Homo sapiens: one gene and its partners. The protein of the gene in region 1 purifies or fractionates together with the protein of each later gene. This does not show direct contact. Each region holds a gene or a part of one and is shown in the gene's direction. Other genes may lie near its edges.

Region 1 (3,349 bases):
AGTATTCAGGACTCTCTGGAACCAAGGGGTTAATAGGTATGAAAAGAGAGGGGAGAATGTGATATTGACTCTTGGTTTCTTTCCACACAGAAACCCTGGCCCTGGATGCCCATGTTGGCTGCCCTGGTTGCAGTAACAGCCATCGTGCTGTACGTGCCAGGTCTGGCCAGAGCTTCTCCATGAGAGCGTTCCTTGAGTCCGTACACCGTCCTCCCTCTAGAAGCTGGCATCACACTCATGCTGGGGACAAACAGAACCATTTTCTTCCTCTTTACCTCTTAAAACAGCAGAAGTACAAGAATACAGCTGTAGGGTCATTGCTTTAAATTATATAAAATGTATCTGTCTATAAAGAAGATATAAAATTGTGACTTTATTCTACTGTAAGCAATAATTTGCTTGCAATTTTTCATGTAATTTTTAAATTAGTATGTTAAGATTCTGAATATTATGGTGGCCTAAAGTAGGCTTCTTGGTACACCAGATTATTTATAACATTAAATTTATGAGTATTTTACTCTGAATTCTGATCACCAGATAATTCATTTTTCTGATTTGATAACTACCCAAACCAAACAACCAATACATACATGGGAAGAGAGGCCCTGTGTGCTCAGTGCCTATCAGTTTGAAATATATACACATATATATATTTTTTACATATTTACGCCATTTTTACTTGTTATGAAACCACTGAGCTATTGGGAACAAGACTTAGAGACAACTATTTGCGTGGATTTTTTTTTTTTTAAGGAAAAATACGTTTGGAAAATAAACTGTTATGGTGATAATTTGGGGAATATGTGCACGCTTGTTCAGCCTTAATGTGACTTGAAGATGTGGAGGACATCAACTTTGAAAAACTTTCCATGAGAGTGTATTTTCTTGAGCAAACTGAAGTATTTCTGGGAGCAAAAACATAGTAATTACACAATTTCAGTGCAGTCAACCAAAATGTTGAGTCAATTGGAATGTAATTTATTAAACCATGTATTTAAAGAGATATTTTTCTTTAAAAGCCAAGTTACTTTCTCATATACAGCATTTTAGGAAGCATGATTTTTTTTTTCTATCATCTATTCCTCCAAGCATGTTTAATTGAAGAAAGTATTAATATCTCTTTAGATAAGCTTGTATTGACCTAATTTGGTTTATGATGTGTCAGAGCTAATTCATGTTCAGGGTGAGCGTTGTACCTACCAACAAATTTCCTGGTTGGGTATGCAAATGGTTATTTTCTTTTTATTGTTGTTAATTGGGACTTTCTGTTAATGAAAAGCACTATTCCCAAGATTAATAGTGTTCTATGCACAATGAAGCACCTAAAAACACTGCTTGATATTATAAATTTAAAACACAAGTGAAAGTTTAGCCATGGTTTTGTGCGGCATCATAGTTATGTCAATAAAGTTTATTTAGGTCATAGAATATCCTAAAGTATCACATAGTTAAATTTTTCAGTCAGTGAAGACCGGGAGGGAATGTCAGTGAATTGGCTTGAATGTTCTGTGGCAATCCACAGGTCTAGCCAAATATTGAAATAGGAGTTTAGGGTATAATTTGCCTTGTGATGTTTGGCAGTCACTGTTTATACTTTAAAGGTTATATTTTAAGCTATTTGAGATTGCTTTTGGGAAGATCACTAGATTTATGGAGGAATTAGTCACAAATGACTTGTAGAAAATACTGTCATATAGTTCATTTCATCATTTTCTGTTGCAGGAAGCCACTCCACCACAGAATGCTAATATGCCAGTGGTACCCAGTACCTCTTGTATATAGGTTATTGCAAATATTGTTCTGAAATGCTTAACTTCAGAATTACATTTTTTAAAGTAAATAATTGTTTTAAATCTATTTTGTAAAGATATAAAGTACAATAGAATTTCTGGAGTACAGATTAAACTATTTGCACTAACACACGTGACGTGCATGATTTAATAAAATAACTTTACTCTCCCTACGCATGTTTGAGTTGAATATCATTGAAGTTCTTAATGCTGACTCTACTATTGGGTTGTTAATAGTCTTCTCTTGACATGACTCTTTATGCAACATAACATACATTTGGTATTCTTCAGGGTTTAAAAGAAAACACTGAGCTGTTTCCTCCAAGTTTTATTAACCTTTTATTTAACTTACTGCTTTATTTTTTTCTCTTTTAATATGGTTATTGTTAAAATGAGAGTCACTTGCTAGACTGGTCTCTTTAAATGTAAGGTCTAGTATCAATATTTACTTCATTCAAGTGGAATAAATGGCTTTTTGTAGTTACTTCCAGTTTTCCTCAAGAATAGAAATAAGTCTGTTCATAAGCAATACCTTCAGTTTTGTTCAGTTCACTTCCACGTTAAATAAAGAATAGGATTATTCACTGGTAATAATAGAGTCATTAAGAAATATTAAGCATTGCAGCTAAAAATTGAACAACCCTGTAATGATACATTTAAGAATTATTCAAAGGTGCTACATGGCAGGGTTAGAGAATAAAAAGAACGTGGTGTTTGAAGCAAAACAGATCTGTATTGGCATCTTGGTTCTACCTTTTATCAGATGTTGTTGCCTTGTGCAAATCACATTTTCTCTGAGTCTCCATTTTCTCATTTATAACATGCGGAGAATAATACTTATATTTGTGGTAGTAGTGTGAACATTAAAAAGATAATGTATGTGAAGTACCATTCGAGTGGTGAATACGTTTTTATGAGAATGTCATACTGAAAAAATATTGCAAATATTAAAGTTTTAGGTAAGCCTAAACTTTAATCTACTTTAATTAAATGAATTGATTGACTCAACCATTCAGAATTTCTGTGTATGAGTGAGATATGTGTGTAACATTATGAATCCTGAGAAAGCATTATCACCTAGCTCTGTTTGTCGCCTTCATAGTTCACTCTTTTGGAAGTAATATGCTTGGTTTGGTGATGAACCAATTGCCCACAATGGTTTTGGAATTCCTGTTGTTATTGCCTTTAGAGCCACTTTGAGTCACATGTGAAAACCATTCACGTTGCCCTATAGTCAGAGGCTTTCAACCAAAACTAGTATTGCCTACTTGATCTCTCACTTTAATCACTACACTTGACCAAAATCTGGTGACTCTTGGCTGCTTCCAGTGACTATCTACTATCAAAAGGATGGGAATCTGCTACCAAAGAGAAAAAACTGCATGCAAATCAACTGAGTTAAAACTGCAGTCTTGGCTGGGTGCAATGGCTCACACCTGTAATCTCAGCACTTTGGGAGGCCGAGGCAGGTGGATCACCTGAGGTCAGGAGTTGGAGACCAGCCTGGCCAACATGGTGAGACCCTATCTCTACTAAAAATACAAAAATTAACCGGGCAT
Region 2 (3,654 bases), on another chromosome or scaffold:
GGCCTCCCCAGGGTCACCCAAGCAGTCATAGCAGAGCTTGGACTGAATCTTGGCCTCTGGGACTTTGCACCAGTGCACCGCACAGCACCCACCACACCATCTTCTCATCCTGGAGGCTGATGAGAGAAAAGATGTTTATCCCCTCACTTACTGACCCTTCTTGGAGTTTGAGAGGAACTTGTGTCTGGCATGGTACCAGCACTGTCACTTTGTACTTTTGTTTTCTTTTATTCTGTTAAGTTAGTAAAAATTCAGACATCTCAGAGGGGTGTGTGTGTGTGTGTGAGTGTGTGTATACACATATATATGTAAGTGAAAAAGGAAAGTTCCTTCTCTTCGTCCCTTTCCTGCTCTTCTCTCCTGAGAGAGAAGAGTTATTGTGCTTATGTAATAGATGAACTACTGCTGTATGTATCATTTTGTGACATAATAATCTGTTTTGGTTTTCCTTTCATATCAGCACAGAGAACTCTTTCTTTTTGATAGCTGCATAGCGTCCCACGGGATGTTTGCACCATAGCTGATTGAGTTTGACCCTGGTTGGTGGACTTTTAGATTTTTTCTAGTTTTTCCCCCATCAGACATGGCTGCAGTGAGAACCCCTTATTCCTGTGCAAGAATGAAGCAGAACAGATGAGTGGAATAGTAGAATGGATGTGTTTATGAAACAGTGATTGGGCTGGGCGCGGTGGCTCGCGCCTGTAATCCCAGCACTTTGAGAGGCCAAGGCAGGTGGATCACAAGGTCTGGAGTTCAAGACCAGCGTGGCCGATATGGTGAAACCCCACCTCTACTAAAAATACAGAAATTAGTCGGGCGTGGTGGTGGGCGCCTGTAGTCCCAGCTACTCGGGAGGCTGAGGCAGGAGAATCGCTTGTACCCGGGAAGCAGAAGTTGCAGTGAGCCGAGATCACACCACTGCACTCCAGCCTTGGTGACAGAGCGAGATGCCATCTCAAAAAAAATAAAAATAAAAAAAGAAACAGTGAATGACTCTGCCACATTGACCCACCAGTTTACTCTCCCATCAGCGGCACCTCTTTTACACACCTTTACTTGAACACTTAGTGCTAACAGACGGTGTGACTTCCCCTGTGAGATCCCTTAAGAGCTAGGCAGTGTCAGATTTTCCTGATGGACTCTGAATAACTTTTCTCTGAAGAGCTTAATACAGCTGCTCCTAGCAGAAGACCTGCCGTGCGACCCTGCTTGGTACCTGTGTGTTGAATGGCAGAGAAGGCAGCCCCCAGGGAGGTCCTGCCAGTAGTCACCATAAGTTTGGAGCAGGAAGGTGGCGGAGCTGCAGTCTGATAATGAGCAGGCATTTGCTAGGTGGGGGATTCTGAGAAGTAAGTAACGTGGTTTCTGCCCATCCGAAACTTCCAGGCTGGCAGAGGAAGCTTGTTTGTGCAGGGGACCGCAGAGCTGTAGATGTTCATGCACAGTTGATTGTGTGGCTCTGCCCCTGTTCTGTGGCAACTCTGAGAGGGGAAGCTTTTTGAGGATGGGAGGGACCTTTTAATGAGGGATCTGAACTGGAGATTTGTATAGGAGCAGCGACAGGGACCTGCAGTGAGTGCGGTGCCAGCAGAGAATGTGCGGAGCTGCCCCTGCCCACTTCAGCTTCCTGGGGGCCCATTCCTGCCAGCAGCTGCTGAAGCTTGGGAAGGAGGCCCTTAGGAGATGCAGGGCTAGATGGCACGAAACGGGGACTCTTCCCAGCTAGCTGGGACAGGAAGCAGCGAATTCAGAGAGGCATCAGCTCCTGGGAGGACTGAATTGCTGGGACTCCTCCGAAGCCTTTAGATGTCGCCTTGCTGGGAATAGCTGGAGGGGCGGAGAGGCAGTAGCTGCCAGGTATCAGAAGGTTTTGGGAGCGCATGCTCTGCGGCTCTGGCTAGAGGGAGTGGCAGTGGGTGGATATGGTGAGCGGCACTTCCAGATCCCCGACCGACCCTCAGGCCTACCTTGGCCCTCGCAGACCAGACAGCCCGTGGGGGCTGCTGGCGTTTGCAGCGAGGGAGAGACTGGCCACTGACGCTTCCCGTTTTTGGTGGGTTTCCACCTCCCTGAGATGCTCCAACCATGTCTTTCTGGTTCTCTTTCCAGAGGCACTGGGAAAGGGACAGCAAAGCAGAGTGGGCAGCTGAGACCCTCACATCCTCATTAGGAGGAGGGAGACCACAGCTCGATGAGGCAGCAGAGGGATGAAGGGGGAACCCAGCCAGTGACAGGTCTGGTTGGGATGCCCAACTCCACCTCCTGCCCCCACAGATAGACCACTACTGTGTCCACTGCCCCGGCCTAGTCCAAGCCACTACCGTTCTGTCCTGGGATTTCTGGGACTGCCCTCATCTGTGATGGGGGTCTCTGTGTCCAGCTCTGCCGCTCTCCTGCTCCCTCCCTCTAGTCTCCCTCCAGAACTCCCTCCAGTCAGTTCTCCATGTTTTAGCTGGAGCTGCCTTTATAACATGCGAATCGGTTACCTCTCTGTACTTAAAACCCTTCCATGGCTTCACTGAGCCTTTTACAGGTTCTGAAGCAGCCATCCTGGCCTTTTTTAGAGTTCCTTAAGCCCACCATGCAGCTCTTGTCTCCGTCCTCTGCCAGCAGGGCCCTTCCCTCCCCTGGCTAACTTCTCTTCAGCTTCAGGCCTTAGCTGAATTGTCGCCTCTTGTCCCTCTTCCCATAGCGTCCTTCGCTCCCGCAATGGGGTCCTAGTCACATTGCATGTGAGTTGCTGCTCATGCCTGTCTCCTGCATGGGACTGAGCCCTGTGGGTGCAGGAACCACATGGCTCCTCTGTTATTCCCCAGCGCCTTACTGGGGCACCTGATGTGTGTGGGCAGTCACCAAACAGTGGCAGGTATTGACCAAGGTGTAGGTTCCCGGCAGGCTGAACTGCCCCTGGGAGGTTGAGGGATCAATCACCAAACCCCAGGAGGGAAGGGAGGAGAGTGAGGAGGAAAGTCAGGACTTGTCTTCGGTGGTCGGTCTGCCTCTCCTCACACCTTCTCCAGTGATTCAGAGAGTAGATTTGGGGGACTGAGAAGATACACAAAGGACAGAAACTCATGCTTCAGAGATGCTGATGTCATATAAGTAGTTTCCCTGTCTGGCCTTGGATGTTTATATACATATGTGTTGGTAAAAAGTGTTAAAAAGGAAAAAAATTTCCCATTCTTGAAGCGGACAGATGAGTTTTCTTTTCTATAAGGTAACTGGTGACATGTATTTCTTTTTTTTTTTGAGACGAAGTCTGGCTCTGTCGCCCAGGCTGGAGTGCAGTGGCACGATCTTGGCCCACTGCAATCTCCACTTCCCAGGTTCAAGCGATTCTCCTGCCTCAGCCTCCCGAGTAGCTGGGACTACAGGTGTGTACCACCATGCCTGGCTAAGTTTTTTGTATTTTTAGTAGAGATGGGGTTTCACCATGTTGGCCAGGCTGGTCTTGAACTCCTGACCTCAAGTCATCTGCCCACCTCAGCCTCCCAAAGGGCTGGGATTACAGGCGTGAGCCACTGTGCCTGGCCAATCCACAGACATTTCTAGTTGATCTGGGGTCTCCAAGGGATCCTACCTCCCGTAAGGAACTGGGCCCATTTCGAAGTTGCGAACAATGGACAGGGAGAATAAAAATGATGAAAGAAGTAG
Region 3 (3,654 bases), on another chromosome or scaffold:
CTATTTTTAGTAGAGATGTGGTTTCACTGTGTCAGCCAGGATGGTCTCAATCTCCTGACCTCGTGATCCGCCCTCCTCGGCATTCCAAAGTGCTGGGATTACAGGTGTGAGCCACCACACTTGGGCTAAATTTTTTTGTAGAGATGGAATCCTTGTATGTTTCCCAGGGTGCTCTCCAACCCCTGGCCTCAAGTGATTCTCTAGCCTCGGCCTCCCAAAGTGTTGGGATTACAAACATGAGCCACTGCACCCGGCCCTAAAATGGAATTTTATGTAACTCTTACACACAGGCTGCTATGTAGCTGATAAGGATAAATGTTTTCAGTGTAGTGCTTGATTATTTGCTTTTTTCTTTTCTTTTCTTTTCTTTTTTTTTTTTTTAAGACGGAGTCTTGATCTGTGACTGGGCTGGAGTGCAGTGGCATGATCTTGGCCACTGCAACCTCTGCCTCCTGGATTCAAGCGATTTGTGTGCCTCAGCCTTCTGAGTAGCTGGGACTGACCATAGATAGGCGCGCGCCACCACGCCCAGCTAATTACTGCTATCTTGTATTTTAATTTTTTCTGCTTATTAGATGTTTGAAATGGTGGCTCACGCCTGTAATCCTCGCACTTTGGGAGGCCAAAGTGGGAGGATTGCTTGAGGTCAGGGGTTGGAGACCAGCCTGGGCAAAATAGCAAGACTGCATCTCTACAAAAAAAAAAAAAAGATAGCCGGGCGCAGTGGCTCACGCCTGTAATCCCAGTACTTTGGGAGGCTGAGGCAGGCGGATCACGAGGTCAGGAGATCAAGACCATCCTGGCTAACACGGTGAAACCCTGTCTCTACTAAAAATACAAAAAATTAGCTGGGCATGGTGGCAGGCGCCTGTAGTCCCAGCTACTCGGGAGGCTGAGGCAGGAGAATGGCGTGAACCTGGGAGGTGGAACTTGCAGTGAGCCGAGATGGCGCCACTGCACTCCAGCCTGGGCGACAGAGCCAGACTCCGTCTCAAAAAAAAAAAAAAAAAAAAGATGCTTGACGTGAATGTATACTCATTTCCTAGTTGTTTCTTTCTATAAGGATGTCTGACCTGGCTAATTTGTAAACAGGAATTCTGCATTCATTTCTCTCTTTGCTTTCTCAACCCCAATTGAGCACACAAGTGTTTAATGAGTACTTAACTGATTTGATAAGAATAACTCATTGATTTCTTTGATTTTTTGTTGCTGGTTTTCAGTGAAAAAAATGTTATCAGCCGCACACGGTGGCTCACGCCTGTAATCCCAGCACTTTGGGAAGCTGAGGCGGGTGGATCATGAGGTCACGAGATCCAGACCATCCTGGCTAACATGGTAAAACCCCATCTCTAATAAAAATACAAAAAATTAGCCGGGCATGGTTGCAGGCGCCTGTAGTCTCAGTTACTCAGGAGGCTGAGGCAGGAGAATGGCGTGAACCCGGGAGGCGGAGCTTGCAGTGAGCCGAGATTGTGCCACTGCACTCCAGCCTGAGCGACAGAGCGAGACTCCATCTCAAAAAAAAAAAAAATGATATCAGTACTTACTCATTGTGATGTCTACATATAGAACTAAAATTCTGTTTACTTATGTGAGTCTTTGGCTAGAGACATAGAATTTCAGTCTTGACTGTGTGAGCTTAATTTCTGGCATGTGGGTTTTTATTGGCTGCAGAGGAAACATCTCTAGCAGAGATGACCTATCCCTCAAATGTAGGAAATACCTGTGTAAACCTAACACCTGTGACTCAGAATAGAAATGGTACCAAGTGAGTGGCTTCTTAGCCCATCAGTAAAGTTATCACACCATAGGCTGGGTGCGGTGGCTCACACCTGTAATCCCAACACTTTGGGAGGCTGAGGTGGGCAGATCACTTAAGGCCAGGAGTTTGAGACCAGCCTGGATCAAGATGGCAAAACTCCGTCTCTACTAAAATGCAAAAAACTTAGCCAGGCATGGTGATGTGCGCCTGTGATCTCAGCTACTCGGGAGTCTGAGGCACAAGAATCTCTTGATCCCGGGAGGCGGAAATTGCAATGAGCCGAGATTGTGCCACTGCACTCCAGCTTGGGCAACAGAGTGAGACTCTATCTCAAAAAAAAAAAAAAAAAAGTGATCACACTAAAACCAAGAGTTTCAGGCTGGTGCAGTGGCTCATGCCTATAATACCAGTGCTTTGGGAGGCCAAAGTGGGAGAATCGCTTGAGCCTAGGAGTTCCAGGCTGCAGTGAGCTGTGATCAAGCCACTGCACTACAGCCTGAGTGACAGAGTGATACCCTGTCTCTATAAAAAGAAGTTTCATAGTACAGGCCAAACATCTTGAAAATCTTATTAAATGTACACTTCTTTCATAGAGCACTGTAGAAACATCATGTGTGTTGTTTCACATGGCTGAAGTGAGTTTAAATGATCTGGACTATTGTTACAATATGTAAACATGTGAAATAACAGTTATCCCACTTAATATTATTTAACTTATGTTTATCTCTTTGATGTTTGGATAAAGCTCCTAAAATGCTTTAGGAAAACATTATACTTTTATGGTGCTGTTTTGAAGTTTCCTGTGAAATTCCTGTTTTCAATGAAGTTACTGTCAGTGGGATAGGAAGTGTGATTTTTTTTTTTTACTTTTCTTTTTTTCTTTTTGAGACGGAGTCTTGCTCTGTTGCCCAGGCTGGAGTGCAGTGGCGCGATCTTGGCTCACTGCAACCTCTGCTTCCTGGGTTCAAGGATTCTTCTGCCTCAGCCTCCCGAGTAGTTAACCACCATACCCAGCTAATTTTTTTTGTATTTTTAGTAGAGACGGGGTTTCACCATATTGGCCAGGCTGATCTCGAACTCCTGACCTCGTGATCCACCCGCCTCGGCCTCCCAAAGTGCTGCGATTACAGGCGTGAGCCACCGTGCCCGGCAGGAAGTGCAATTTTTATTTATAATATAACCTTTTTTTTTTTTTTTTTTTTTTGAGAACAGAGTCTTGCTCTGTCACCCAGGCTGGAGTGTGGTGGCACGATCTCTACTCACTGCAACTTCCACCTCCCCGGTTCAAGCGATTCTTGTGCCTCAGCCACCTGAGTAGCTGGGAATATGGGCTCCTGCCACCACGTCCGGCTAATTTTTTTTTTTGCTGGAGTGAGACTGAGTTTCAGCCTTGTTGCCCAGGCTGGAGTGCAATAGTGCGATCTTGGCTTACTACAACCTCTGCCTCCTGGGTTCAAGTGATTCTCCTGCCTCAGCTTCCCAAGTAGCTGGTGTTAACAGGCACGCGCCACCATGCTGAGCTAATTTTTTTATTTTTAGTAGAGACGGGGTTTCACCATGTTGGCCAGGCTGGTCTCGAATTTCTGACCTCAGGTGATCCACCTGCCTTGGCCTCCCAAAGTGCTGGGATTACAGGTGTGAGCTACCGTGCCCGGCCCTAGTGGAACATTTTAATTTGTTTCTGGTAGCATAGCTCTCTTGGCAATGGTCATTAAGAGGGCCAAATACCATTATTATGATCAATTAATTAAATGTGGTTAAAAGTCAGAAGTTAGAATAAGTATGTGTTCATGAATGCGTAAAATATTACACACTGAGAGAGTATTAAGCTTTTTAATTTTCCCCCAGTAACAGTGAGCAGATTGCTGAAATCTCTGAAGCAGGAATGTAAC

What was found.
Region 2: the proteins of SLMAP (region 1) and STRN4 purify together in Homo sapiens (affinity purification with mass spectrometry; 2 studies listed by BioGRID and IntAct, with this or other methods). This does not show direct contact.
Region 3: the proteins of SLMAP (region 1) and RABGEF1 purify together in Homo sapiens (affinity purification with mass spectrometry; 3 studies listed by BioGRID and IntAct, with this or other methods). This does not show direct contact.

Annotation. Positions count from the first base shown.
Region 1 is NC_000003.12:57,927,206-57,930,554, forward strand, and holds the end of SLMAP (sarcolemmal membrane-associated protein), read left to right. Parts: intron 1-90; coding exon of another isoform or gene 91-183; 3' UTR 184-2,798; downstream 2,799-3,349. UniProt on the Homo sapiens protein: Associates with the striatin-interacting phosphatase and kinase (STRIPAK) core complex, forming the extended (SIKE1:SLMAP)STRIPAK complex.
Region 2 is NC_000019.10:46,739,884-46,743,537, reverse strand, and holds part of STRN4 (striatin-4), read left to right. Parts: intron 1-3,654. UniProt on the Homo sapiens protein: Calmodulin-binding scaffolding protein which is the center of the striatin-interacting phosphatase and kinase (STRIPAK) complexes.
Region 3 is NC_000007.14:66,743,675-66,747,328, forward strand, and holds part of RABGEF1 (rab5 GDP/GTP exchange factor), read left to right. Parts: intron 1-3,654. UniProt on the Homo sapiens protein: Rab effector protein acting as linker between gamma-adaptin, RAB4A or RAB5A. Involved in endocytic membrane fusion and membrane trafficking of recycling endosomes. Stimulates nucleotide exchange on RAB5A. Can act as a ubiquitin ligase.